7 separate regions of the Homo sapiens genome follow, and regions 1, 3, 4, 5, 6 and 7 are each reported to be linked to region 2. The links are microRNA targets in miRTarBase. Many come from high-throughput screens and were not tested one by one. Region 2 holds a microRNA gene; each other region holds the end of a gene's coding sequence. Distances are from middle to middle.

The links. The annotated mature microRNA hsa-miR-215-5p reads AUGACCUAUGAAUUGACAGAC and lies in region 2 at 985-1,005, shown strand. An mRNA with a match to its seed (bases 2 to 7 or 8) in the 3' UTR can be bound and repressed. Matches are read on the target gene's strand: a 7mer-m8 pairs with bases 2 to 8, a 7mer-A1 pairs with bases 2 to 7 and ends in A, and an 8mer does both.
Region 1: the mRNA of CD83 is a reported target of hsa-miR-215-5p. The part of its 3' UTR that is shown has no 7-base or 8-base seed match.
Region 3: the mRNA of HSPBAP1 is a reported target of hsa-miR-215-5p. The part of its 3' UTR that is shown has no 7-base or 8-base seed match.
Region 4: the mRNA of PPP2R3B is a reported target of hsa-miR-215-5p. The part of its 3' UTR that is shown has no 7-base or 8-base seed match.
Region 5: the mRNA of RBP7 is a reported target of hsa-miR-215-5p. The part of its 3' UTR that is shown has no 7-base or 8-base seed match.
Region 6: the mRNA of LIN9 is a reported target of hsa-miR-215-5p. Seed matches in the 3' UTR shown: 7mer-A1 at 1,278-1,284.
Region 7: the mRNA of NOXO1 is a reported target of hsa-miR-215-5p. The part of its 3' UTR that is shown has no 7-base or 8-base seed match.

Annotation. Positions count from the first base shown.
Region 1 is chr6:14,134,886-14,138,950 of GRCh38, reverse strand. It overlaps CD83 (CD83 molecule), which reads right to left. Exons shown (of 5, transcript NM_004233.4): 5 at 2,045-3,843. The coding sequence ends at 3,715. Among named protein-coding and RNA genes, the nearest start is that of CD83, 19 kb to the right of the region's middle.
Region 2 is chr1:220,114,856-220,118,920 of GRCh38, reverse strand. It overlaps MIR215 (microRNA 215), which reads left to right and starts at 959; the gene lies at 959-1,068. The region is part of intron 12 of IARS2 (isoleucyl-tRNA synthetase 2, mitochondrial); the gene reads right to left. It overlaps MIR194-1 (microRNA 194-1), which reads left to right and starts at 680; the gene lies at 680-764. LOC124904515 (a long non-coding RNA gene) reads left to right here. Exons shown (of 2, transcript XR_007066883.1): 2 at 1,038-1,179.
Region 3 is chr3:122,737,099-122,741,163 of GRCh38, forward strand. It overlaps HSPBAP1 (HSPB1 associated protein 1), which reads right to left. Exons shown (of 8, transcript NM_024610.6): 7 at 3,905-4,015; 8 at 2,901-3,777. The coding sequence ends at 3,247. Among named protein-coding and RNA genes, the nearest start is that of HSPBAP1, 55 kb to the right of the region's middle.
Region 4 is chrY:330,971-335,035 of GRCh38, reverse strand. PPP2R3B (protein phosphatase 2 regulatory subunit B''beta) reads left to right here. Exons shown (of 13, transcript NM_013239.5-2): 13 at 519-1,103. The coding sequence ends at 669. Among named protein-coding and RNA genes, the nearest start is that of LINC00685, 14 kb to the right of the region's middle.
Region 5 is chr1:10,015,047-10,019,111 of GRCh38, forward strand. RBP7 (retinol binding protein 7) reads left to right here. Exons shown (of 4, transcript NM_052960.3): 4 at 736-975. The coding sequence ends at 786. Among named protein-coding and RNA genes, the nearest start is that of UBE4B, 16 kb to the right of the region's middle.
Region 6 is chr1:226,228,976-226,233,040 of GRCh38, reverse strand. LIN9 (lin-9 DREAM MuvB core complex component) reads left to right here. Exons shown (of 15, transcript NM_001366245.2): 15 at 435-1,884. The coding sequence ends at 540. Among named protein-coding and RNA genes, the nearest start is that of MIXL1, 7.3 kb to the right of the region's middle.
Region 7 is chr16:1,975,288-1,979,343 of GRCh38, forward strand. It overlaps NOXO1 (NADPH oxidase organizer 1), which reads right to left. Exons shown (of 8, transcript NM_172167.3): 8 at 3,630-4,056. The coding sequence ends at 3,765. TBL3 (transducin beta like 3) reads left to right here. Exons shown (of 22, transcript NM_006453.3): 9 at 58-151; 10 at 242-423; 11 at 521-662; 12 at 769-827; 13 at 924-1,027; 14 at 1,527-1,674; 15 at 1,767-1,997; 16 at 2,069-2,139; 17 at 2,227-2,383; 18 at 2,455-2,513; 19 at 2,671-2,774; 20 at 2,862-2,933; 21 at 3,026-3,184; 22 at 3,265-4,056. The coding sequence ends at 3,398. Among named protein-coding and RNA genes, the nearest start is that of NOXO1, 4.2 kb to the right of the region's middle. RefSeq lists enhancers at 2,725-3,304, 3,305-3,884, 3,885-4,056 and a silencer at 4,029-4,056.

The DNA of each region.
Region 1 (4,065 bases), not on the chromosome of region 2:
GTCGCTGTTATTATCTCTTCCCTTGCAACCCCAGGAAATAATCGGGCTCTGCTGGATTCCATGAGTGTGGCTCAGTATTTTCTACGAGGAAACCTCCTAAGTATTATTATAAATACGAAAAAACCACAGGCTTTCTTTTGGAAGAATGTGGAGCTGATAGTCACATCTGTATTTGTGCCCTGGGACATCCCAAGGCAAAATTATTATAACTCTAGAACTAATTTCATAGACAAGGGACAGCCTTGAATACAAAGCTTTCCCTGGCAATGGAGATGAAGAATAAATATGGTCCATGATCATCTGCCTTCCTCTGAAACATCTTCGTAGGCCTCAATCGAGGCAGTTGAGACCAGTCCACTCTCCTTGACAAATTCTGCCCTCCATTCTCTTCTACACCCCCTTCTCTCTCTCTCTCTCTCTCTCTCTGCCTCACACACACACATTTTTTTTTTTTTTAAGATGGAGTCTCACTCTGTTGCCCAGGCTGGAGTGCAGTGGTGCGATCTCGGCTCACTGCAACCTCCGCCTCCCGGGTTCAAGTGATTCTCCTGCCTCAGCCTCCCAAGTAGCTGGGACCACAGGCACACGCCGCCACGCCTGGCCAATTTTTGTGTTTTTAGTAGAGACAGGTTTCACTATACTGGCCAGGCTACTCTCAAACTCCTGACCTCATTATCCGCCCGCCTTGGCCTCCCAAAGTGCTGGGATTACAGATGTGAGCCACCGTGCCCCGCCACACACAAACTTTTTCTTATACCAAAGACTAGGTCTGAAACATTGAGTCCGCCTGCTCTCAAATTTCCATCATGTTTCCAGCTTAATTCAGTCCAAACTGACAAAGGGCAACCCTTCTTCCTGGTGTGTCCTGTACTGTAATTCTAATGGCCACGAAGAATTTTAGTACACTGAGTATTAATCCTCTGAAAGCAGCATGACTCCTTCACCAAGCCAATTCATTCCTTTTAACAAAACCACTTTGTCAAAGATTTATGGTTACTGATACTTTCTCTGCTACCTTTTTCTCCTTTCTTGTTCTAATATCAGTCAAAGGCTTACCTTTTGCTACACACTAGGCTTACTGCTTCTATATATTATCTTATTTAATCCTCACAATAAACCTATTAGGCAGATACTATTCTTATTTTAAAGATTGGCCAGCTAAGGCTTAGAGGGGTAAGTCCTCTGCCCAAGGAAATATAACTTCCAAATCTTGAAGCTGGGCTACACACTCAGGTGACTAGGAGCTCTGTGAACTCTCAATTACCATGCCCTGGCACTTTTGGTAAAGCATTTGAGAACAGACTTGATTCCATTGAAAGTGATTCCACAGCTTTTAGAGACATTTTATGTGTATTCATCTTTGTAAAGAGACTTCCACTTATGATGCTTTTTTTTTTTTTGAGACGGAGTCTTGCTCTGTCGCCCAGGCTGCAGTGCAGTGGCACAATCACGGCTCACTGCAAGCTCTGCCTCCAGGGTTCATGCCATTCTCCTGTCTCAGCCTCCTGAGTAGCTGGGACTACAGGCACCCGCCACCACGCCCGGCTAATTTTTTGTATTTTTAGTAGACACGGGGTTTCACCGTGTCAGCCAGGATGGTCTCGATCTCCTGACCTCGTTATCCGCCTGCCTCGGCCTCCCAAAGTGCTGGGATTACAGGCATGAGTCACCGTGCCTGGCCTGATGCTTTTATAACTATTACAACTACTTAGACCACATCGTTCTTAACATTTTGGGGGGAAGGGACCTATTTGAGAATCTTGAGTGAAACCCATGAATCCAGGCACAAAGCCCCTGATGTTACACATCTTTCTGAAGCAGAAACCCTCCCTCCATCCCGCCCACCCATGACCGTGCATGTTAGTATGAGCTGCTCATGTACTGGGTAGCAACGTGGCCCCAGGATGGAAGCAGAAGCATCTCTGGGAAGGAGGATGCTGTTTACAAAGCTCTGTCTGCCAGCATGCCCTCCCTCCGAGAAAGACTCAGCCAATCTTTCAGCTCTCATTTTGGATTCTGATTCTCAAACTGGTTTACAACATCCTAGCACTCATCCCAAAGTCGGGATTTTTTTATTTGTATATGTTTTTTATTTTTAACTTTCATTTTAAGTTCATGGGTATAAGTGCAGGTTTGTTACATAGGTAAACTTACATCATGGGGGTTCATTGTACAGATTATGTAATCACCCAGGTATTAAGCCTAGTAACCATTACTCATTTTTCCTATCCCAAAGTCTTATGAGTTGAATATAAAACAGAAAAACACCCTTTCTTCACATGCATACGTTTAATAACATGAAAGCCAAGACAGAGGTAAAAACACTAAATCAACTTGGTATCCGTTTTACTCCCTAATATTAGGGGGACAGTGAACATATAACTCAAGCAATAAAATGCCTTTGGAAACCAAGAAGGGAAGGGCCCAAGTTTGATAAGGGAAAGCCAACAATGGCTAAAACATCCATGCAACACTTCGTGAAGTCCCTTCTGCCAGCGGCTCCCGTGTGTCCATATCTTGGAGTGTGTTAGGCTACTGCTTCAAGAACAGACCGTGGACCTGGCTTCCTCACTTCCCCAAAAGAATTCCTACAGAAGGCTACAGGAAAGGCTTCTTGGTAACCTTCTTTGTTTCAAACAATGGAAAACATGAGAAATGGATAGCACCCTCTCATCCCCAAAACACCATCATCATAGCAAGGATAATGACTCAATGGAGTTTCGAATCTGTATAGTGCTTTATATGTTTTCAAATAATTTTCACGTATATGATCTTCATTAGCCCATGCAACAGCCTTGTGGTTTACAATGGAGAAAGCAGACACCAGAAGGAACTTGCTCAAGATCATGCACCCAGATAGTGGGACAAGTGGGCGAGCACCCAGACTGCACCGTCAGCCCAGCATTTCCAGCCGGCCATTAAATAGCTCTCTATCTTGTCACCCTCTCTGACTTCTTCTCCCTCTCTATGTCCAGGCTGCCTGTCAGTTCACAATGCTATCTCACTACAGATACAGATTTCAAAAGCAGAAAAACACAAACCTTCTTTGACAAGTACATATAGATATAAAAATAAATGTGGCACTCTTCTTTATTGCTTCTTTATGGATGTCTTTCCCAGATGAAAAGACCCTGCTGGGGAATAGTTCATCGACTTGTTATTTCTTTGTACACAGATTACTCCTTAGTAATAGCAGGACCTTCACACCAGGAAATTATTTGCTAAATATTTCCCACTGTCTCACAGCTTGATCTGTCAATTTCTCCCAGACGTAAAACATCTGGGCTGGTACAGCAAAACACAGAAAATTCAAAGAGATGTCCCCAAGATGCAGAAGAGGACAGCTGTCCTCAGGAGTCTGTCACGGGCCAGCTGGGGGCATTCATATTTCCCAAGACCCTTTTCCAGCTGCATCTCACCATAGCTTTTATATGACTGAAAAAATGTCCAGGAGGTTGACCAGATAGCTGCATACATCGCTGAAAAGGTGGCCATGGAGAAGCAGCAGTGGCCTCATGCTATGTGGTCATGTGATGGTTTTCGAGGCCTGCCCACAGAAAATGGGGTGGGATCCCCTTCCAGATGTTTTCAGTGAGGTGAAGGACTTCACAGGATGCCATCTTCAGCGTAGGCTCATTCTTCTCTCCTCCAGTGTAACAGACAGGCACACCCCTGAGCCTCAGCTTCAGGAAGAAGAACCTGCAGAAATCCTGCTCATACCAGTTCTGTCTTGTGAGGAGTCACTAGCCCTAAATGCTTATTTGGGGAGGTAACTGGGAGAAAAGCTCGTTCCATGCCAGCTTTAGAAAAATCTGGGAAGATACTCTGTAGCCGTGCAAACTTCTAAAAAGAAATGAAAGAAATGTGAAGTGAATAATTGGAAAAATTCAGCAGTTGTCACCTCCTTTTAAACTCTATTCACTAAGAGCTGGCTAGACAACCCATTCTGGAAGCTCTCATACTCACTGCCTCACTCGCTCCACAAGGGATTTGTACCAACCATTTCACTGGCGTCTCTAAACTTGGACCAGGAGATTCACTGATTGTGGCCATTTCGACCCCCTA
Region 2 (4,065 bases):
AGGGGAAATTCTATTTTTAGTTTAATCCTAGATTTATGTTTTAAAGCTGACAGAAAACCATTTTGAAGAAATTTTTCTTTATTTAATGAACATAAATTTTTTGAACAAAAGGTTTATTATTGTTAACTGAGAAAAAATTTGAGGTAGCTAAAGTTAACACTCAAATTATATTGGAAATTCCTTGGCTATTTTTACTAAATTTCTCATAATTTCCAGAAGTTAGGGGCTAAGTTTCACTATGTTAACTATAGCATTAATAGCATGAAAGTGATTATAACTGTTTGAAATGATGAAAGAAATTTAACCAACTTCTTTTCCTTCCCAGGTAGCCAGTGTTTCTACATTTTATCTTTTTTATGCTAAAAATTATTTCTTCTGTTTTTATTGACTAGTAACAGATTTCAACCCAAATTCTAATGGCATTATCTCACAGATTCAAAAAATGACCAATGACAGTAAAGTCAGAAATGGAATTATTTCTTGATAAAATACAAATATGATCTAAAATGCAAATGACACTATTAATTCAAATCAAAATAAAACATCAGCGTTTCAAATCTACCAGTCCCTAAACTTATTTAGAACATGAATAAATCGAGACTTTCTTCTGTGAAACAAGTATACTTAGAGATATCGTACAGCTCCCATGATGAGCAAAAGGAATCTCCTTATATGTTTAATGGTGTTATCAAGTGTAACAGCAACTCCATGTGGACTGTGTACCAATTTCCAGTGGAGATGCTGTTACTTTTGATGGTTACCAACTTGCTACAATATAAAGGTATAATAAAGAAAGACAGAAAATTGTGGTCACTTGGACTCTCATTTGATTCCAGCAGAAAAAAAGATTTTCAGCCTGTTTTATAAAATTAACAAATGATTAAGAATTAATATCAATTTTCTTAAATTCAAGTTTTGTAACACCAAAAAGATCCAATAATGGAAGAGGATTAAAGTCATCATTCAGAAATGGTATACAGGAAAATGACCTATGAATTGACAGACAATATAGCTGAGTTTGTCTGTCATTTCTTTAGGCCAATATTCTGTATGACTGTGCTACTTCAATATCAGAAATCGACTAACACCACGCAACCAACGCAATGGCAGGTACACAGAAGATAATCTGTAACACTACCATGTAAATGTATTGAGTAAATAAAACATAAATATACCTAATGAAAACTTGTGTTTTTCTGACAAAGCTCATATTTATTTAACCTAACTTACTGACCAGTCAACCTATGTACCATTTAATTATCAGGATGTATCAATTAAACCAGTTTGCTATATTTACTAATACATACATATGATCCACCTCAGAGTCCAGAGGGCTATTCCACCAAGGAATCCCCACCCACCTCAATCACTTCAGTGAAATTCCCTAGACATCTTGCTCTCTAAATAGTGAAAAGAAGAGTAGCCGGGCACAGTGGCTCACGCCTGTAATCCCAGCACTTTGGGAGGCTGAGGCGGGCGGATCACTTGAGGTCGGGAGTTTGAGACCAGCCTGACCAACATGGAGAAACCCCGTCTCTACTAAAAAATATATATATATAAAATTAGCCGGGCGTGGTGGCACATGCCTCTAATCCCAACTACTCAGGAGGCTGAGGCAGGAGAATCACTTGAACCTGGGAGGCGGAGATTGCAGTGAGCTGAGATCGTGCCACTACACTCCAGCCTAGGAAACAAGAGTGAAACTCCATCTCAAAAAAAAAAAAAAAAAAAAAAAAGAAGAGGAGACAATGACATGGCTTATAAAACTTTCCAAAAAAAAAAAAAACTTTCCAGTGTGAAATTTTAAACAAATGTTTGTGGAAACTCGTCTCAGGTATAATCACTTTAATTCTTTTTCTTTTAAACTAAGTCTGAGGCTGGGCATGGTAGCTCATGCCTGTAATCTCAGCACTCTGGGAGGCAGAGGTGGATGGATCCTTTGTGGCCAGGAGTTCGAGACCAGCCTCGTCAACGTGGCAAGAGCCCATCTCTACTAAAAATACAAGAATTAGCCAAGTCAGTGGCGCGTGCCTGTAGTCCCAGCTACTCAGGAGGCTGAGGAGGGAGAATCACTTGAACCTGGGAGGTGGAGGTTGTAGTGAGCCAAGATCACATCACTGCACTCCAGCCTGGGTGACAGAGTGAGACTGTATCAAAAATAAAATAAAATAATCTGAACTGGACAGAATTTACATTAATTCTTAATGTAAGTATTAAGATATTAGTAGTTTACATCTGACCAAGCTCTGTAAGAACACCACAGCAACAATATTTAGATTATTCCTAAAGTCTTACCTCAGATCCAACTTATAATAATATTGAAATAGCTTTCCAATGACTTTCCAGTCTCTAGCCTCTACTTTCTTTTCCTAAAACATACTCTTACTCCTCAAGTCTACTTAAAAGTTTAAACTTCTTAATAGCATAATTTAGAAAAAATTCCATTCACCAAATTAAAAAAAATTGCTCAAAGAAAATGAAAATCTGGAATGTGTTCCTAAAAGGAAGAATTAACATTCCCCTCTCCACATCTGTGAAAAACAGCAACAACACTCAAAGCCTCCCTAATATTACTAGAAGATAAACTAGCTAGACTATTATCTCATTAAAAACAGGGGCCATGTCAGTCTTGTTCACTGTAGCAACTAGCAGTTCCTAGCACTGACACGTACTAAGTGCTTGACAATGTGTTCTGTTTTGTTTCGTTCTGAAGAGACAGTGTCTTGCTCTGTCATCCAGGCTGGAGTGCATTGGCATGATCATAGCTCACTATAACCTCAAACTCCTGGACTTGAGCGATCCTCTCGCCTTAGCCTCCCAAGTCGCTGGGACTACAGGCCCACACTACCACACCAGCTAATTTTTAAATTTTTCTGTAGAGATGGGGTCTCACTGTAATCTTGAACAGCTGGCTTCAAGCAATCCTGCCGCCTTGGCCTCCCAAAGTGCTGGGATTACAGGCATGAGCCACTGTGCCCACATAACAATGTTTCTTAAGTGAATACATGAATAGCTCATCATCTATGGAATACTGTGCTTTACACCAAGTAGTTTGCATTTATTATTTAGTATTCATAACAGTCTACCTGCAACCATTGCTTTTCCTATTTTATAGAGGAGCCAGAGGCTAAGTAAATTCCTCAGTCTCACACACAGTGAATGGCAAAGCCTGGGTTCAAATTCAGTTGCCATTCTCCAAAGCTCACAGATTTCCAAGCAACTTCTCTTTCGAAAAGCACAAAAGGGAGCTGTTCGGGATAAAAGAATTATTCTAAGACACAATTATGATAGTGGCTGTAAAACTTAACAAATTTACTATAAATCACTTATAATAAATGAATTTTTCTTTTTTAATTTTTTTGAGATAGAGTCTCACTCTGTCACCCAGGCTGGAGTCCAGTGGCACGATCTTGGCTCACTGCAACCTCTGCCTCCCAGGTTCAAGCAGTTCTCTGCCTGAGCCTTCGGAGTAGCTGAGATTACAGGCCCGCGCCACCATGCCTGGCTAATTTTTGTATTTTCGGTAGAGATGGAGTTTCACCATCTTGGCCAGGCTGGTCTTGAACTCCTGACCTCATGATACACCAGCCTCGGCCTCCCAAAGGGCTGGGATTACAGGCGTGAGCCACCGCACCTGGCCATGAATTTTATAGTATGTAAAGTATGCTTTAATAAAGCTTAAGAATGAGGCTGATCTATGTGTAGTGATTTGGAATAAATCATAACACATAAAGTGAAAAAAATCTAGGCACAGAGCAGAAGATAGAGATACTCTCTTTTGTATAAACATATGTATGTGCTGACAGAAGAATTCATTTTTTCTGGAAAGATTCAGAAACAGCTGTAAACAATGACTGCCTCAAAAAAAGGTTCTGGATACCTGGAGTAGGAAAAAGCCTACTTTTCAGTGTACAAGCTTTTCTACTATGAATTGTTCACTATGTCCATCTATTACCTTTCCAACTCAAAAAAAAAAAAAGGGAAAAACTGGGAATATAATCATCAGTGTAATCATGTGCATTTAACTACAATTTCTTAAATTTTAAGTATCTACACAATTACATA
Region 3 (4,065 bases), not on the chromosome of region 2:
CATGATTGTATATCTAGAAAACCCCACTGTCTCAGCCCAAAATCTCCTTAAGCTGATAAGCAACTTCAGCAAAGTCTCAGGATACAAAATCAATGTGCAAAAATCACAAGCATTCTTATACACCAATAACAGACAGAGAGCCAAATCATGAGTGAACTCCCATTCACAATTGCTTCGAAGAGAATAAAATACCTAGGAATCCAACTTACAAGGGATGTGAAGGACCTCTTCAAGGAGAACTACAAACCACTGCTCGATGAAATAAAAGAGGATATAAACAAATGGAAGAACATTCCATGCTCATCGGTTGGAAGAATCAATATCATGAAAATGGCCATACAGCCCAAGGTAATTTATAGATTCAATGCCATCCCCATCAAGCTACCAATGACTTTCTTCACAGAATTGGAAAAAACTACTTTAAAGTTCATATGGAAGCAAAAAAGAGCCCGCATCGCCAAGTCAATCCTAAGCCAAAAGAACAAAGCTGGAGGCATCACGCTACCTGACTTCAAACTATACAAGGCTACAGTAACCAAAACAGCATAGTACTGGTACCAAAACAGAGATATAGATCAATGGAACAGAACAGAGCCCTCAGAAATAATGCCACATATCTACAACTATCTGATCTTTGACAAACTTGACAAAAACAAGAAATGGGGAAAGGATTCCCTATTTAATAAATGGTGCTGGGAAAACTGGCTAGCCATATGTAGAAAGCTGAAACTGGATACCTTCTTTACACCTTATACAAAAATTAATTCAAGATGGATTAAAGACTTACATGTTAGACCTAAAACCATAAAAACCCTAGAAGAAAACCTAGGCAATACCATTCAGGACGTAGGCATGGGCAAGGACTTCATGTCTAAAACACCAAAAGCAATGGCAACAAAAGCCAAAATTGACAAATGGGATCTAATTAAACTAAAGAGCTTCTGCACAGCAAAAGAAACTACCATCAGAGTGAACAGGCAACCTACAGAATGGGAGAAAATTTTCACAACCTACTCATCTGACAAACGGCTAATATCCGGAATCTACAATGAACTCAAACAAATTTACAAGAAAAAAACAAACAACCCCATCAAAAAGTGAGCAAAGGACATGAACAGACACTTCTCAAAAGAAGACATTTATGCAGCCAAAAAACACATGAAAAAATGCTCATCATCACTGGCCATCAGAGAAATGCAAATCAAAACAATGAGATACCATCTCACACCAGTTAGAATGGTGATCATTAAAACATCAGGAAACAACAGGTGCTGGAGAGGATATGGAGAAATAGGAACACTTTTACACTGTTGGTGGGACTGTAAATTAGTTCAACCATTGTGGAAGTCAGTGTGGCGATTCCTCAAGGATCTAGAACTAGAAATACCATTTGACCCAGCCATCCTATTACTGGGTATATACCCAAAGGACTATAAATCATGCTGCTATAAAGACACATGCACACGTATGTTTATAGCGGCACTATTCACAATAGCAAAGACTTGGAACCAACCCAAATGTCCAACAACGATAGACTGGATTAAGAAAATGTGGCACATATACACCATGGAAAACTATGCAGCCATAAAAAAGGATGAGTTCATGTCCTTTGTAGGGACATGGATGAAACTGGAAATCATCATTCTCAGCAAACTATCGCAAGGACAAAAAACCAAACACTGCACGTTCTCACTCATAGGTGGGAATTGAACAATGAGAACACATGGACATAGGAAGGGGAACATCACACACCGGGGCCTGTTGTGGGGTGGGGGGAGGGGGAGGGATAGCATTAGGAGATACACCTAATGCTAAATGATGAGTTAATGGGTGCAGTACACCAACATGGCACATGTATACACATGTAACAAACCTGTACATTGTGCACATGCACTGTAAAACTTAAAGTACAATAATAATAAAATGAATGAATAAATAAATAAATAAATAAAGGACTATACCAAGAATCACAGCTACCTTACTTTGGCCACATTCTCTGTCCCAATGTACTTGATGAGGTATTGTCAATGAGGTCTCATTTTTATTATTCATTCATTCAAATATTTAATAAGCACCTACTACATGCTGGGTACTCATTGCGGCTCTACAAATAACAGCAATAATCACAGTCCCTACCCTTAAGGAGTTACATTTTGGTTGAGAGAGATAGTAATGAAATTCATAGGTAAATACATAGTGGTCCGATGGAGATAAAAGCCACAGAAGGGCTCTTTTCAGGCCCTTCTTTCCCTGGCATGCTTACATAACAATACCCTCCTTCCCTCTGTGACAACACATACTTTCTTTGGATTTACTGATACTCATTACCTCGAGGACAGTAGGATAGCCAGCAATCAGTTCATCTCAAAGGTGACTTTGCATATCTTTTCTGTTGTGTATTTGTTTCATGCATGGTTACTCAGAGATCAATATGCTTTTCTAATTTCTAAATTCCTTCTTAGACAGTAATGGTAATTAATTATCCCTGGATCTTGCAAATGTAATGAGAGTGGGATCAATTTCACTGAGCTAAGCCTTTAGTCACTGTTTGGGGAGTTTGAGTCCTTTTTAGCCCTAGGATTGGTGTCCCTAGATGTCCAAGTTCCTTGCCTAAAGAGGCCTCATACTGAACCCACAACTACTTTTCTCCTGATTGGTATCCTACTCTGAATGACAGGGGATAACCAGTGAGAATTCTGCAGCTGTTACAAGTGAGATCACTTCAGAGCGAGGCTAGACTCCAGACCCACTGGATCCATTAGACCAGAGGCTGACAAAGCTTTTCTGTAAAGGAACAGATACTGAATATTTTTTCTGGGCCATACACTCTCTGTCACTACTCAACACTGCCGTCGTAATCCTGAAGACATCATAGACAATATGTAAATGAATGGCATGGCCGTGTTCTAGTAAAATTTTATTTGCAAAAGTAAGCAGCCGGTTGGTCCCTGGTTGAGGCTGAGGAAGACATTACTTCCTGCTGGAAATACTTGGGACTTACATTTGACACAGGCTAAAAGTATGGGATGAGAGAGGAACAAAAGCTTACAAACAAAGAGCAGCCAGTTTGGCCAAAGAGGAATGTGCATGAAAGAAGGTGGCAACAGACTGACATGTAATTCGGTAAGGATAAATACATTTACAAATGTGCAAACTGACCTTTTGCTGGTTCATCTTTATTTTAGTCATACTACTTAAAAATATATATTTAAAAAATATTATTTTAAAAGTCATCTTCCACTTGAATCATAAACTTCTTCCTTGTATCAAAAGTTGTGCCACTATCCTGGTTACTTGTGGATTCACCAAGCAGTCCAGCAAGTCATCCGTAGAAATGAATGTTTGAGGAGTCGTAGTAGTATTTGAGGCAATCTGTTCCTCAATTGCATTTTCACTGTTGCTCATTATTTGTTGTCTCTTGGCACAATGCAATTTTCCAAAGTGTTCTCCATCCTTGTCCACAAAGTCTTTCCCATCACTTCCAAATATGCCTCCTCTTTCTGAAGGCGGTTCTTCGGACCTCTGTGCTACAGGGACCAGATCAGGGCCAAAGGGACTTGCTGCCTCCGGTTTGTCTGTTCCTGTGGTCAAGTTCTGGCTACCTGTTTGGCCCACCTCCATGTGGTTGCACACATTTAATTCTTCCTTTTTCATGTGCTCTCCATCTGTTCTCAGTGCTTGGATTTCTACTACCTCAGATGTTCTGCAGCGATCAAAAAATGCAGAAACAGCTGCATTTAAGTAGCAACAGTTGACTGCATGGGACGTTTCCTCAACCTAAGGGAAGAGAAAAACCTTTTAAAATGGTTACATACATTTAGTTACACTGGAAAACATATGTTCTAGTCAGGGCTGGTTTACCACAGGAAACTAACTGCCATGATGAAGACCAGAAGCCGCCTACCTCAGTGGGGTTTAACCAGGCTCTGGTATTTTGTGGATTCTCTGCAGTTTTCAGGGCACACACAAGCATACGGGTGATTGCCTCTTCTACCCGGGCTAGGTGATCCTCTTCCTGAATTAAAAAAACACGCTTTTAACTTCTGTTAAGTCTCATGGCTTTTT
Region 4 (4,065 bases), not on the chromosome of region 2:
CCGCGCTGGGTTCCCCGGAGCAGCGCCCGACGTCACTGCCGAGACCTTAAGGGAAGGCGCGCGTCCAGTCCTCGCACTGCTGCGTGTTCTGGTCAGAACGGAAGTGGTAGCCTCCACTGGGAGCTTCTGTGCTTTGGGAGAATGTGTCTAAACTGTGGTCCTGTTTGTTCTCCAGTCCTGTGTGGACACCACGACCCAGTTGTAAACACAGGTCCCGTGCAGCTCGCTTTGGGGAAGAGGCGCGCCCGCCCAGGTCCTCTGTGTGTAGCTCACGCCCGGGGCTCCGTCCCGTCCTGGGTGGGTTTTCACCTGCACCGCAGGCCCCTCCCCCGGGAGCATTCGTGGAGCCGGCGTCCTCAGCCAGGAGCGCGTTGCTGGCTCAGCGGCTGGAGCTCAAGGTCGGCTCAGGGGACTGTCTCGTGCTGGAGGTTGGCGGCCGAGCAGCCTGTGTTTCCCGGAAAACGGCCCAGGGCCTGCTCCGCGCTGCTGGCCACGTCTTCGCCATCCCCTCGTTGCAGGTTCGAGGCCGAGCTCAGCCCTGTGGAGCAGAAGCTGAGTGCGCTGCGCTCCCCGCTGGCCCAGAGGCCCTTCTTCGAGGCGCCCTCACCGCTGGGCGCCGTGGACCTGTACGAGTACGCATGCGGGGACGAGGACCTGGAGCCGCTGTGACGCCGCCCGCGAGAACGCCGCCGCGGGGCCGCTCCCCACGTGCCACCACCGGGCCACCGCGGCTCGTGTAAAAACTGTTGTGGAAAATGAGTGCGTTTGTACGGAATGATAAACTTTTATTTATTCACAGAAGCGTGTTGATTGCCGCTGTGGGTTCGTGGCTGGACCTGCCCAGAGCTCTGTGCCAGGGGGACACGTAGGGCCGCGCGTGAATGGGACGGGTTCCCACACGGACACCCTCTGGCGCTTGCCGTTCCCGACCCAGCCTGGGTTCCGGGGCCTGCGTCTGTGGAAAGGGTCCGTGTGCGCACAACGGTGACCGGCGGCTCCCGGGCGCCTCAGTCCTGGACAGGAGCCTCCACCACAGGCTGTGTGAATGTTTTGTGTAAACGTACAAAACCGTTTCTGGCGATCACGCTTGTACGTTTGGAGGATTTTCAGTCACGGGCTCGGCTCCCTCAGCCACAGCGTGGCTCCGTCCAGGATTTACAAGCGTCAGTGCTGGAGGGGGACCGCAGCCACGCCAGACGCCTCGGGGTGCAGCCTGGGCCTCTCTGCGGGGCCCCTCCCCAGCCAGGGGGACCCCACCCTCGGGGCCGTTCCCTCCCGGAGCCACGGACCCAGGCCCCGTTCCACAAACGACCCCAGAAGGAAGGAGCCCGCGCCAGAGTGGGGACGTCCACAGCTGGGGGACACCTAAATGAGGGGGGTCGGAGGCCCCACCAGGAGGAGCTCCCTGTGCAGGGGAGGCCACAAGCACCCCAGGGGCACCCGACGTGGATGAGCCCAGGCCCAGCTGTGCTCCCTCTGCACGCAGGTGAGGGTCACAGGTGGTGACCATGGGAACAACCCCGTCCTCACACACGACAAAACTCTCCCCCAGGAAACGGAGGTGGCAGCGTCCACGCGGCAGGGCAGGGCCAAGCCGGGACCACCCCGAGAGCAGCATACGCACCCCGTTCATCCACCGGCAGCCGTCGCTGTGAAGGAGGCGGACGCACAGGGTGGTCCCGTGACCCCTGAGGAGAGACTGCGGGGGCTCCAGGTGGTGGGTAGACGAGGCAGCACCTCCCGGGGGAATGCTGCTGTCCCCAAGGTGTCCTCAGTGTCACCAGGTGCTCCCCTGAATTCCCGGATGCCCCCACCTGGGTCTGCGAAGGGTCAGGACCCCCAACAACAGGACAGGTGCAGGGCAGGAGGTTCTGCCGCAGGGAAATGACACTGGGAGCCACGGCCCGCAGGGCCCACCCTGCCCTCAGCTCCGGGGAGCCCGTCTGGGAGACCATGTCCGCCCCACACCACCTCCGGACACCACCCCCCAACACACACACACCTATGAGCCGGAGCCCATGGTCATGGGAGGGCTCTGACCAGCGCCCTCAGCCTCCCCACACTGACACTGGGAGCCCCCCCAATTAGGGTTCAAGGCTGAGACATGAGAGGCCTCCCTGGGGCCGTGAAAGACAGCGTCCCCCACCCACGACGCTGGTGAGGCCCCTGCACAGCCACTGAGCATCCTCCGACATCCCTGTACCCAATGCATTCCCCCAAGTGCCCCGTCCTTCCCCAGCCACAACCCCAGATGCCCCGGGCAGTGCCGGGGCCGGGCGTGCACACCGACACCTTTGCCGGAGAAGTGGGGGGGTCCTGTCGGGGGTCCTCGTGGACGGCGGCGCTGCGGGGAGACCCAGAGCCCAGCAGTCATGCCCTCCACGTGTTCTGGGGGTCCATTCCCCCGAGGGCTCACGTGTGCAGGGGGCCAGGGACCCCACAAAACAAGCACTCGGGGCACCCTGACCGTGGCCAGCGTCCCGCCAGAAGCCAGGATGTTCCAGGGCTCAGCGCCTCACCCTCTGAATGACAATCGTGGGTCCCCCGCACTTCGTGGCCGTCACCCCTTGGAGATCCCCGAGCAGGGACCCGACCCAGCCCACCCCTCCCCTCCCTCACGGGGTGCCTTCGTGTCAGAACCAAGAGTGTTCACAGGGGCAGCCCCGGGTCCACCCAGGAGCAGCAGCATGAGCTCTGTTCCGGGAGGACCATGAAAGGTGCCAGCCACAGCCCTGAGGTCCCGGGGCACCTCCTCACGGGACAAGACACAGCTGCTCAAGGCGCAGCAGGGGTGACCGCCGGCACCAGACCGGCATCCACAGCGCTGTCCTGAGGGGCGGCAGGGACAGTGATGGCAAGACGGGCTACCCAGAATAAGGGGACCCAGCCTGGTGGGGGGGACGGGGCCCGGAGAGCCATGAGACGGGGGAGACAGAGGAGATGGAGAGGGGGAGATGGGGGAGAACTGGGGGGCCTCAGATACAGGGGATGAGGCAAAGCCGGACCCAGCCATGGCCTGCAGCCCTGAGGTCCCGGGGCGCCTCCTCGTGGGACAGGACACAGCTCCTCGAGGTGGAGCCGAGGTGACGGGGAGCAGAGGTGACGGGCACCACAGGTTCCCAGCACTGGCACCAGACCGGCACCGAGAGCCCCGCCCAGAACAAGGGGGGACCCAGCCTGCGGAGGGACGGGGTCTGGACAGCCACGAGACGGAGGAGACGGAGAAGGGAGAGATGGAGGAAATGGAGACGGGCAAGACGGAGGGGAGGGAGGAGATGGAGAAAGGGGAGTTGGGGGAGAACGGGCGGGCATCAGATGCAGGAATGAGGCAGAGCCAGACCCAGCCGCGCTCAGCAGTTCCTAGAGAAGACACGGCTCCCGGGGGAGCGGGAGGCCTTTATGACTCAGAGCCGGGGAAGGAGCAGAGGCCGGAGGTCGTCCCCAGCACGGTGCCCACGGGCCGCCCTGCCCAGGCCGAGGGGTCGGACCCCACACGGCACAGAAGCCCCGTCTGCCGCAGCCCCGAGACACACATCCTGTGGCTGACAGCGGTGCGGCCCCTGGGCCGGCGCAGACCCCACGTGGCACAGACGGCCCCGCTGGGTCTCAAGCCTGCAGACAAGGCCACGCACCCGGCAAGACGCTGCTGCGTGGCTACAGCAGAGGGGCCTCGAACCACGTTCCCCATGACCCACGGGCAGACCCTGGCACAGCAGGGATCCCTGCGCCCTGGCGCCGTGTAGAAGTCACAGCTCCCCCAGCCTTGGCTGCCGCACACGCCACTCAGAGCCTGGGGAGCAGCCGTTCGGGTCTCGGTGAAACAGCGGCCCCAGGACGTGTCTGCGCAGCTCCTAGGCGGGGGCTGCCCCGGGTCTTCCGCACGGGGGCCTGGCCGTCGGCTGCAGCCTCCCCCGGCCCCGTGTCCTCACCATGGCGTAGCTGTCTCCACCCCGGTATCAGCTCCCGCAGCAGCCCCGGCCGCCACGAGTGGGTCCTGACCACAAGGAGGGGGGTCCTGACCACAAGGCGGGGGGTCCTGCCCGCCTCTGCCCCAGAGAACAGCCC
Region 5 (4,065 bases), 210 Mb from region 2:
GTCAGAAGTGTTGAGAGTAGGCCAGGTGTGGTGGCTTATAACTATAATCCTAGCACTTTCGGAGGGCAAGGCAGGAAAATCATTTGAGGCTAGGAGTTCAAGACCAGCCTAGGGGTCAGGCGCAGTAGCTCATGCTTGTAATCCCAGCACTTTGGGAGGCTGAGGCGGGCAGATCATGAGGTCAGGAGTTCAAGAACAGCCTGGCCAACATGGTGAAACCCCGTCGCTACTAAAAATACAAAAATTAGCAGAGCATGGTGGCACACACCTGTAATCCTAGCTACTCAGGAGGCCGAGGCAGAAGAATTGCTTGAAGGCAATTCCGCTTAAAGGCAGAGGTTGCAGTGAGCCAAGATTGCACCACTGCACTCCAGCCTGGGCTACAGAGTGAGACTCCATCTCAAAAAAAAAAAAAAAAAGACCAGCCTAGGCAGTGGCAACCCTGTCCCTACAAAAAACACAAAAATTAGCCGGGCATGATGGCACGTGCCTGCAGTGTCCCAGCTACTTTGGGGGCTGAGGTGGGAGGATCGCTTGAGCCTGGGAGGCAGAGGTTACAGTGAGCCGAGATCTCACCACTGTACTTAGCCAGGACGACAGAGTGAGACCCCATCTCATAAAAGAAAAAAACATGTTCCAGAAAAGGGTTAAAACACAATAAAAAATAAGTGTTGAGAGTAAAAACAGACCACATGCAAACTGATCCTTCTTTTTCCCTTCCTCCTTACGCCCTAGGAAATGTTCTGTGAAGGTCAAGTGTGCAAACAGACATTCCAGAGAGCCTGATCCACATCCAGCAGCAGAGCCCACTTGTGGCTGCAGCTTTATGCCAAATTATATTGCAGACTGAACAGACGTTTATCTATCCCATTTGGCGACGAGGACTCGTGGCTGGAGAGAGCCACACAGCGTGTAACCTGAAGTCATCTAGATTATGGGGAAACTGCTCAGCTTCAATAAACCTGTCCAAATGACTCTGAAGTTTTTCCTTTCCGATTTAGGAAATCCCAGCATTTAAAAAAATATTTGAAAGTCTTCTAGGCACATGAGAGACACACCAGTGAACAAGCTGTCAGTCCTGCCTTCAAGGCTAGTGAGGAAGCTGGCCAAAACAAGCAACCTGAACAGCCACCAGAGCTCTGGGGGTGGGGGGCAGATGACTTTGAGGGATGGGCAGATGGTGATATTGACAGGGGTCTGGGATGGTGATTTTGTTTCTTTTCTTTTCTTTTCTTTTCTTTTTTTTTGAGACAGAGTCCTGCTCTGTCACCCAGGCTAGAGTGCAGTGGCTCCATCTCGGCTCACTGAAACCTCTGGCTCCTGGCTTCAAGCAATTCTCCTGCCTCATCTTCCCAAGTAGCTGGGATTATAGGCATGTGCCACCACACTCAGCTAATTTTTGTATTTTTAGTAGAGATGGGGTTTCACCATGTTGGCCAGGCTGGTCTCGAACTCCTGACCTCAGGTGATCCACCCACCTTGGCCTCCCAAAGTGTTGGGATTACAGGCATAAGCCACCGTGCCTGGCCAGCAGTTCCTCTTTTTTTTTTTTTTTAAACAACATTTAGAATCTCCCCAAGGGTAGCTTAGAGAAAAGAAAATCCAAGACAGGAAATCAGAAGCTATCTATGGGGGGAAAAATAACCTTAATAATGGCAAAGTTACACAAATAACAAACCAGAAAGGAATCATTCCAGAAGCCAAGAATTCAACCCAGATCACCCTTGTCAAAGGACAAAGCCTTAGCTACTGAGCTACACAGCATTGGGCAGTTTCCTTCTTTTTTTTTTCTTTTTTTTGACGGAGTCTCACTCTGTTGCCAGGCTGGAGTGCAGTGGCACAGACTCGGATCACTGCAACCTCTGCCTCCTGGGTTCAAGTGATTCTCCTGCCTCAGCCTCCTGAGTAGCTGGGACTACAGGTGTGTGACACCACGCCCAGCTAATTTTTGTATTTTTAGTAGAGATGGGTTTCACCAGGTTGGCCAGGATGGTCTCGATCTCTTGACCTTGTGATCCACCCACCTTGGCCTCCCAAAGTGCTGGGATTACAGGGATGAGCCACCGCACCCAGCCCTGGGCAGTTTCTATTGCTATTCCCAGAAGAAGTCTAGCCAAATTCAAGATTTCAAAGGCTCTTAACTGCTCAAGATAATTTTTTTTTTTTGAGACAGAGTCTTGCTGTGTTGCCCAGGCTGGAGTGCAGTGGCGTGATCTTGGCTCACTGCAAGCTCCGCCTCCCGGGTTCACGCCATTCTCCTGCCTCAGCCTCCCGAGTAGCTGGGACTACAGGCACCCACCACCACGCCTGGCCAATTTTTTTGTATTTTTAGTAGAGATAGGGTTTCACCATATTAGCCAGGATGGTCTTGATCTGCTGACCTCATGACCCACCCGCCTCGGCCTTCCAAAGTGCTGGGATTACAGGTGTGAGCCACCGCGACCGGCCTGCTCAAGATAATTTTTAGGGCTAACTATGACATGAACCCCAAAATTCCTGTCCTCTAGATGGCAGAAACCAAGATAAAGTATCCCCACATGGCCACAAGGTTAAGCTCTTATGGACACAAAACAAGGCAGAGAAATGTCATTTGGCATTGGTTTCAGGGACCCATAGCAACATTTGTAAATGACCAGCCTGATGGGCTGGCTTGAAAACTTGGCTTATAGGCATCCTAAACCCACGTTCTATCCCCTGATACTCCCCTCTTCATTACAGAACAACAAAGAAAGACAAATTCTTAGCATAAAGTACACCAGATTTGCTACAGCCTAAGACTGGTCTGACAAATCCTTTTTTTCTACTAATCAGACCCTCGCAGAGAAGACAAATAGTGGCATTTACCGTTTACACAACATATACAGAGAGAGAGAGACCAGAAACTTGGCTGGTAAGAATTTCTTCCTCTGGCCAGGAGCGGTGGCTCACACCTGTAATCTCAGCCCTTTGGGAGGCTGAGGCGGGTGGATCAGAAGGTCAAGAGATCCAGACCATCCTGGCCAACATGGTGAAACCCCGTCTCTACTAAAAATACAAAAATTAGCTGGACATGGTGGTGGGCGCCTGTAGTCCCAGCTACTCAGGAGGCTGAGGCAGGAGAATTGCTTGAACCCAGGAGGTGGAGGTTGCAGTGAGCCTAGATCACGCCACTGCACTCCAGCCTGGCGACACAGCGAGACTCCGTCTCAAAAAAAAAAATAATAAATAAGAAAAGGAAAAAAAAGAATACAACTCAGGAACAGCCAAATGGAGGAGATGCATGGGACAAGGTTTAGTGGGGGGCTGCGGAGCTTCCTTGCCCTCTGCAGGTGCACCACCCTTGCAGTGCGTGGATATGTTTGAGGCAGGAGACCAGGGTCTGGAGGCAGGGAACCTAAGGCTGTTTTGGGCTGACTTCCTAGAACTAAATTGAAAAGAAAATCCTAACTTTCCAAGCCTAAGTAACAAAAGGACCAGAGGCTACCCCTTTGCAAACCCCTACCTTTTCTGTGGCAGATGGGAAATTGTAAGTACCTCTAATTAATTAATTAATTGCCTTTTTTTTTTTTTGAGACAGAGTCTCTCTCTGTTGCCCAGGCTGGAGTGCAGTGGCACCATCTCGGCTTGCTGCAACCTCCACCTCCTGCGTTCAGGTGATTCCCCCACACTTACTGGGCTGCATTCCCAGAAGGTTAAGGCATTCTTAGTCACAGGATGAGATAGGAGGACAGCACAAGACACAGGTCACAAAGACCTTGCTAATAAAACAGGTTGTGGTAAAGAAGCCAGGAAAACCCACCAAAACCAAGATGGTGATGAGAGTGGCCTCTGGTCTTCCTCACTGCTCATCATACACTAATTATAATGCATTAGCATTAGCACCCACCACGCCCAGCTAATTTTTGTATTTTTAGTAGAGACGGGGTTTTACCATGTTGGCCAGGATGGTCTCCATCTCTTGACCTCATCATCCGCCCACCTCTGCTTTCCGCAACCAATCGGACTGATTACAGGCCACTACTTCACCTCATTTACATGGGTGAACACCCAGTGGCCAATGGGAAACCTCTAGTGGGTATTTGGACT
Region 6 (4,065 bases), 6.1 Mb from region 2:
GTCCAGGTTTTAAGAATTATGCATATTTGTGAAGTACTCATATATTATTATCCGTTAAATATATTTGTAAGAGCTTTTCACTTATATCCAGCCTATGGACAGAATAGAAATTTCACATGGATTTTGTATATAAAGAAATCAGGACATATATTTAGGTTTGGGGTCAGCATGGAGGTTGAGCTTAGAGGTAGAGCTTCCCCAGTCAGTGAGAGACTCATCTTCTCCTTCCAGCCCCCCGTGGCTCCTTTGCTTCTTTAGAGCATATTTGTTCAACTACTACTGAAGTAGAATTATGGCTAATATATTAGAGGAGATTTATTCCTTCCCTAAGATTTATCATAGCTGTTTCCTAACTAAAATTCAGGTCTTCTTTTAAAAATTTTTTTCTTAATTTTTTGAAATAAAGTAGTTAACCATGTTTCTTCTTTCTTTAGTTGCTTTCAGAATAATGTAGAAATCCATGTTGCACATATTCAGAGTGGCCTGAGCCAGATGGGAAACTTACATGCCTTTGCAGCAAATAACACCAACAGAGACTGAGTAAAGATTTCATTATTCCAACTGCACGGGACATTGTTTTTGAGAAGTTCTTTTCCTTTATATAGGCTTCCAACACCAAATAACCTAACTGCTGGAAAACAAGGGAAATTTAAATCTCCAAATAAGGCATTTTAATAGACTGTACTGCTTCTTAAACCAGCATTGCTGACCAGCATTATATTTATTTTTCTTTTATTATTCAGATGCAGTAGCATTGCTTATGTTACATATGTTTATATTCACAAATATTTTTAAACTGAAATATCTGAACATAATATAATTTCGTGGAAGAATACATTGACCATTTTTTTTAATGTGCATGAATTCACCGCAACACATGCAGACAACTGCTGCAATGGAGAGTATGAAGAAACCTGGTCTTTTTATTCATGTCGGTGGCAGTGTGGAAATTCCATCCAGAAAATTACAACTCCACTTGATTTAGTTGATCACCATCTCAGTCTTCAAAAGATAACATCATGAGGTGTGGGAAGTCCTAGTTTTAAGGAAACCACTGAAATATAGATGGGAAATGTGGACTTTACAAGTATATGTTATATATACTTGCAATGTGACATGGTTCTGTAGATCATTTTATAATAATAAATATTTTAATTTATCATAACATATAAAAGAAACCTTTGTTGTTTGTTGAAAGAAAATGAAGGAACAGGGGGAAAAAAGGTGCAAAATGCTAAATTTCTAAAAATGGATTTGGCATGTCTTCCCATCAGTTCAGGTCAAAAGTGCATTGTTGTGAGATTTATTAAAAAAAAAATGATAACACACTATTTTCATATTTTTTTGTTTATTTGCACAACTTTTAAACCAGATTACTGGTTAAAATCCAACAGTACACAATTTATAAAGTAAAAAGATTTTATAAGGAAAACAAATATAATAACCAGTGCTGTGAAATGCAGAAGAAAGGCTTGTTTTGGTTGTTTTTCTTTTTTAGGAAAACGCTGCCTAAAATGTTAATCTTGTAAAAAGTATGTATTTGGAATTTTCTTCGTTTTAATAGAATATTATAAACTCAAAATATAAATTTTTTTCAAATTTGGAGTTTAAGATATAGCTGTAGAGGTGGTTTTAATTCCTTTAGATGTCTCATAAAATGAGACTTTTTATATGTTAATGTATAATAAAACTGAAACAAGATTATTTTCCATTTGAAATTTTTGTATAGTTTAAAAAGGCTTCCGTATTCTTTGTTGGTATTGTGCCACTGCAGAACTTTAGTGCAGAGTTTATATTTAGCTAAACTGTTATGTTAATTAAGAAATGCATAAATCTTCTATTCTTAATATTTGTAATTCTAAATAAATTGATCTATGAAAATTATTATTTTCTATATTTTCATTTAATTCAAGTCAATATGCATTCCTTCTGTTTAAAAAGTTTTGAAGAATTGTAATTTCCATTAAGTTATATTTTTAGGGGAAACAGTACAGATTACCGAGTCTCTCTGAAGTACCATACCATCCAATGGTATGGATTTTATTTATTACCATACCATACCATCCAGTGATACGGATTTTATTTATTACCATACCATCCAGTGGTATGGTATTAAGCAGGTAAGTTATTTGGCCTGGTATAGACCTAGTGAAAGGTTGATTTTAATATATTCTGCCTAGAATTGGGTATTTTGTGCATTTTTTCTTTTACATTTCTTTTTTTTTTTCTCTGTCGCCCAGGCTGGAGTGCAGTGATGCAATCTCAGCTCACCACAACCTCCAGGTCTTGGGTTCAAGGGATTCTTCCACCTCAGCCTCCTGAGTAGCTGGGATTACAGGCACGCGCCACCACGCCTGGCTAATTTTTGTATTTTTAGTAGAAACAGAGTTTCACCGTATTGGTCAGGCTGGTCTCGAACTCCCAACCTCAAGTGATCCACCTGCCTCAGCCTCCCAAAGTGCTGGGATTACAGGTGTGAGCCACCATACCCGGCCTGTCTTACTTACATTTCTTAAGGCTTATTTGTCACACTTAAATAGTACCTCATTTTACACATATTTAATTGAGCACTGTTTATCTTTCAGTGCCTTCATGTGTTGACAGCAGGGACTGTGCTGGAGAATACAGTTGAATTTTATTTCTGTTTTGGGAGGAAGAAATCTATATTTCCAAGTAGTCATGTTGGGTCAGCCATACATTGATTTGAATGATATGCCACTGCTTAACACACTTTCGGAGCTCTAAAGAAAGCTATCAAAGCCAGATTGAGCAAACATGCAAGCACATACATGGCTTTTATTTATATAGATTTGGTTCTGAGTTACTTTAAGCTAGTTCCAAAAGTCACATTCACTCGTAACCATTGAGAATCTACAAAAATATTTGCCCATTAGCATTTTTGAATCAATGCACCTCTCTCCATCTTCATTATCACCACTACTTGCAGCCCAGCTGCCATCATCACTGGCCTGGAACACTGCAATTGTCTCCTAACTTACCTCCCAGCATCTACTCAGCCCTCTTCAAATGCAGTCAGAGGGATCATCTTAAAATGCAGAATGGATCATGTTATCCCTCTGTCTATAAATGCTTTTAAAGTCTTCATTTGGCTTTCAGGACAAATTCAAAACTCTTTTACAAGACCTATAAAGCCATGCATGATCTGGCCCCCCCCCCCCCACTTCTTTATCTGCTCGTTACTTCACAGGGTCTTTGCACATGCAGTGTGTTCCCTCTCCTCTCCTTGTAACTCTTGATCATCTTCCAGATCTCACCTTCAGCATCACTTTTTCAAGGAAGCTTTCATTAACCACAGCACATCTATTACAATGTCTCCAGATCATATATCTCTCCTTCCAGCACTTGGCACATTTGCAATTTAATATTAATATTTCTTGGAGGTCTTTTGTCTCCCTACTAGCCTCTGCTCCATGAGGGGAGGGACTGTTTCTGTTTTTGTTCACCATTTATTTCCAGGTCCTGGTAAAGTGCCTGTTCATGGGCAACAAATAAATATTTGTGTAATGAGTGGGCAAATGAGAGTTTCAAAAAAGCTCTAAGCAACATTAATGTCATCAGAATAAGAGTATGGTCTTCCGTGGTGATTTCCTTGAAAGATGAGACAGTAATGACTGGCATGTAGAAATTCTGACTTGGTGATTGCTTTTAAACCTATCACATTACTTTATCATTAGTCCTGACTAACAAGACCACTGCAATATAGGAGGCACTGTATGGTGGTAGACTAATGGGTGGGCTGAGTTTGAGTCCTGGCCATGCCATTTATAAGCTGTATAATTGTGAGACACTACTTAGATTCAGTTTCTTGATCTTTAAAGTAGGAAGATTAGTCCCTGTCTTACATGGTAGGTGTGAGGATAAAATAGATAATGTCTGTAACACATTTAGCAGTTAGGGCCTCTTAGAGTTTGAGAGAGCTGCAGGCTACTTCTTAGAGGATCCCACAATTTAAAATGTGACAACAGGATTTACATATTTATAGATTTTTACAGTTGTTCACTGGGGAAACAACATGAGACAATATAAAAGCAATAATAAAATAAT
Region 7 (4,056 bases), not on the chromosome of region 2:
GGTTGAGTTGGGTGGGGAGGGGGCATGATAGCAGCCTGTGACCCAATTCGTCTCCAGAGCGTGGAGGCTGCTGTGCTGTTGCCAGAGGAGCCAGTGTCCCAGCTGGGTGTGAAGTCCCCAGGGCTGTACTTTCTGACAGCTGGCGACCAAGGTGTGTTGGGCCGGGACATGGGCAGGCGGTAGGGGCTGGGGAAGGCCTGTGGACCTGAGAGTCTCAGCAGCCCTGTCCCCACCCACACAGGCACTCTGCGCGTGTGGGAGGCAGCTTCTGGGCAGTGTGTGTACACGCAGGCCCAGCCGCCGGGCCCTGGGCAGGAGCTGACCCACTGCACCCTGGCACACACCGCCGGCGTGGTCCTCACCGCCACCGCCGACCACAACCTGTTGCTCTACGAGGCTCGCTCCCTGCGGCTGCAGAAACAGGTGCACACCTGCCCTTGCTCAGTCTGGAGGCTGCGGGCACCAGCCCTCCTCTTACACAGGTCCTGGCTCACATCTCCTGCTCCCTGCCACCCCGCAGTTCGCTGGCTACAGTGAGGAGGTTTTGGATGTCCGGTTTCTTGGGCCCGAGGACTCCCACGTTGTCGTGGCCTCCAATAGCCCCTGCCTAAAAGTGTTTGAGCTGCAGACGTCAGCCTGCCAGATCCTCCACGGCCACACGGGTGAGTGGGGCCAGCCCACCTGACACCCTGGGAGCCGCCTCGGTCCCTTGCTTGCTTCCCTTCCCCCGTCTTGCTGTGTGACCTATACCTCCCCACAACATCTCAGATATCGTCCTGGCCCTGGATGTGTTCCGGAAGGGGTGGCTCTTTGCCAGCTGTGCCAAGGTGAGGCACCCTGAGAGGTAGGGGCAGGGGCACCAGGCGGGGAGGCCACGCAGTAGGCCCATGGACCAGCCTCTCTCCTCAACTCCCTGTCCCCAGGATCAGAGCGTCCGTATCTGGAGAATGAACAAGGCTGGCCAGGTGATGTGCGTGGCTCAGGGTTCCGGTCACACACACAGTGTGGGCACCGTCTGCTGCTCTAGGTAGTGAGTCGGGGCTGGGCCCAGGGGTGTCAGGGAGGTGGAGGCCCAGGCCTGCCAGCAGGGCTGCCGCTCAGGGAGCTGGGGAGGCAGTGGCAGCTTTGGCTTGCTCTGAGGCTCCAGCCCAAAGATGTGGAACAGAACAGGACAGGAGAGTCCCTAGGTGCCTCGGGGTCAGTCCTCAGAAGTAGCCCTGGTGAAGTGGTTAAAGGGGGAAGGGCATTAGGCAGAGAGAATGACCCTGCACGAGGCCCAGGTGGAGAGGTGACCCCTGCATGTAGGCACAGGGTCCTGTGGCTAGGGCTGAGCCACCCGGTGCTGCGGGTGGACAATGTAGACAGGGCTTGATCCTACAGGTGCCTGGGGGTGACCCAGGCCAACCCGCATCCTGGGACAGGCCCCGTGGTCTGGACCGTGGGCTCCCAGCCTGGCCCTGTGGGGAGCTGGCCATCAGGGCTGGCTGGGGCTCAGCTGTGTCTCCTCCTCTCCTGTTGGGTCACAGGCTGAAGGAGTCCTTCCTGGTGACAGGCAGCCAGGACTGCACTGTGAAGCTGTGGCCTCTTCCCAAAGCCTTGCTGTCCAAGAACACAGCCCCAGACAACGGCCCTATCCTCCTGCAGGCCCAGACCACTCAGCGCTGCCATGATAAGGTGACTCCATAGCCACTGGGGTGGGGGTGTGGCCAAGCCCTTGCTGGGGGAAGATGGGGGATTGCTGAGCCACCACCTTCTCCCATTGCCAGGACATCAACAGCGTGGCTATTGCCCCCAACGACAAGCTGCTGGCCACAGGCTCACAGGACCGCACGGCCAAGCTCTGGGCCCTGCCACAGTGCCAGCTGCTGGGTGTCTTCTCAGGCCACCGGCGTGGCCTCTGGTGCGTCCAGTTCTCTCCCATGGACCAGGTGCTGGCCACGGCCTCAGCTGATGGCACCATCAAGCTCTGGGCACTCCAGGACTTCAGCTGTCTCAAGGTAAGTGGCGCTCCAGACCCTCCCCACTTCCCGCCCTGGTGACATCTCATGCCCTACCCCCCACCTTGCAGACATTTGAGGGGCACGATGCTTCTGTGCTGAAGGTGGCCTTTGTGAGCCGTGGCACGCAGCTGCTGTCCAGGTGAGTGGGCTGGGGTGGGGCAGCGATGGAGTGGGGGGTGGCGGGGGGACCTGCCTGACGCTGAGCCTCTCCCCACCCCAAACCCAGCGGTTCGGATGGCCTCGTGAAGCTCTGGACCATCAAGAACAACGAGTGTGTGCGGACGCTGGATGCCCACGAGGACAAGGTCTGGGGGCTGCACTGCAGCCGGCTGGACGACCACGCCCTCACTGGGGCCAGTGACTCCCGAGTCATCCTCTGGAAGGTTGTGGGCCCCAAGGGCAGGGAAGAGTCGGGGTGGAGTGGAGGCCCCATCTGACCCTAGTCTAACCCCAGGATGTGACCGAGGCGGAGCAGGCAGAGGAGCAGGCCAGGCAAGAGGAGCAGGTGGTCAGGTAAGGCCAGGGCAGTGGCGCCCCTCCCCGCATCAGCCCTGCTCTGTGCTGTAGGGAAAACGAGGCTGAGTGCCAGGCTCCCTGCCTGCTGACTCCGATGGCTCTGCCTGCAGCCCCAGCCAGCGGCCCTCAGTGGCCTCTCCTCCCCTCCCCACAGGCAGCAAGAGCTGGACAACCTGCTGCATGAGAAGCGGTACCTGCGGGCGCTGGGCCTGGCCATCTCCCTGGATCGGCCCCACACCGTGCTGACTGTCATCCAGGGTCAGTGCCCACCCCGGGGGGCGAGGGGCTGGGTCTTCGGACCACTGGGCTCTGCTTTCCCCAGCTCAGCCTTCCCTTCTCCCACAGCCATCCGGAGGGACCCTGAGGCCTGCGAGAAGCTGGAAGCCACCATGCTCCGACTGCGGCGCGACCAGAAAGGTTGGCGGCCAGTCAGGGTGGGTGGCCCGGTGGGCAAGGGCCAGTCATGGCAGATTGGCTGGGCAAGACGATGAGGGTCCTGTTGCCCACAGAGGCCCTGCTGCGCTTCTGCGTCACGTGGAACACCAACTCGCGGCACTGCCACGAGGCCCAGGCCGTGCTGGGTGTGCTCTTGAGGCGAGAGGCCCCCGAGGAGCTGCTGGCCTACGAAGGCGTGCGGGCAGCGCTTGAGGCCCTGCTGCCCTACACTGGTATGTGGGCACAGCCTGGGGTTGGGGGATCCTGGTGGGCGTGTGGACCACCCCCCTGACCTCCCTCTGTCCAACCCCAGAGCGGCACTTTCAGCGGCTCAGCAGGACCCTCCAGGCCGCCGCTTTCTTGGACTTCCTGTGGCACAACATGAAGCTCCCTGTGCCGGCCGCCGCCCCCACCCCCTGGGAAACCCATAAAGGCGCACTGCCCTAGCCGGTCCGGCCTCTCTCCAGTCCATCCTGAACCCCTGGAAAACCCATAAAGGCCGCTCTCCTGGCCGGCTCTGTCTCTCTGGACTGCAGTCCAGCCCCCCACCCTGGCCAACACCCTACCTAGCCAGCCAGAAGGGCACTGGAGCTGATGGTCTCGGCCCTGCCACGCCCATCCCGCACCCTGGCCTGGCAGAGATCCAGCCCGCGGCTCCGCACGCTTAGACGGTGGGGGTCATGCAGAACAAGCTTTACTCAGAGGAACAGCAAATGGCCCCCTCCCATCCCTGCTGGCCAGGGAGATCCGCCCTCCCCGCTCCTCCCCAGCCCTGGGATGGCGCGGTCCATCCCCTCATCGGGATCCTCGCGCTCACTGCTCCGTCGTGGGGTGCGGCACAGAGTCCACGCACCCTCGAGGGCGGCCCTGGCGCCGTGGGCGCCGCTCCAGGGCCCTGCGTGTGACGGTGCAGCAGCGGCTCTGGATGGCGCCCGGCGAAGGTCGGGTGGGCACGGTGGGGGGAGGGGCGGTGGCCTGGGAGGGTTCAGGGAAGCCCCGGGCCTCACCCGCCGGGTCGTCTCCTCCACGGAACCCCGTCCCGCTCAGGAGAGCGCCCAGCCCTTCCGGCCGCAGCAGCACCGCGGGGAGTAGGCCCGCCCGGTCG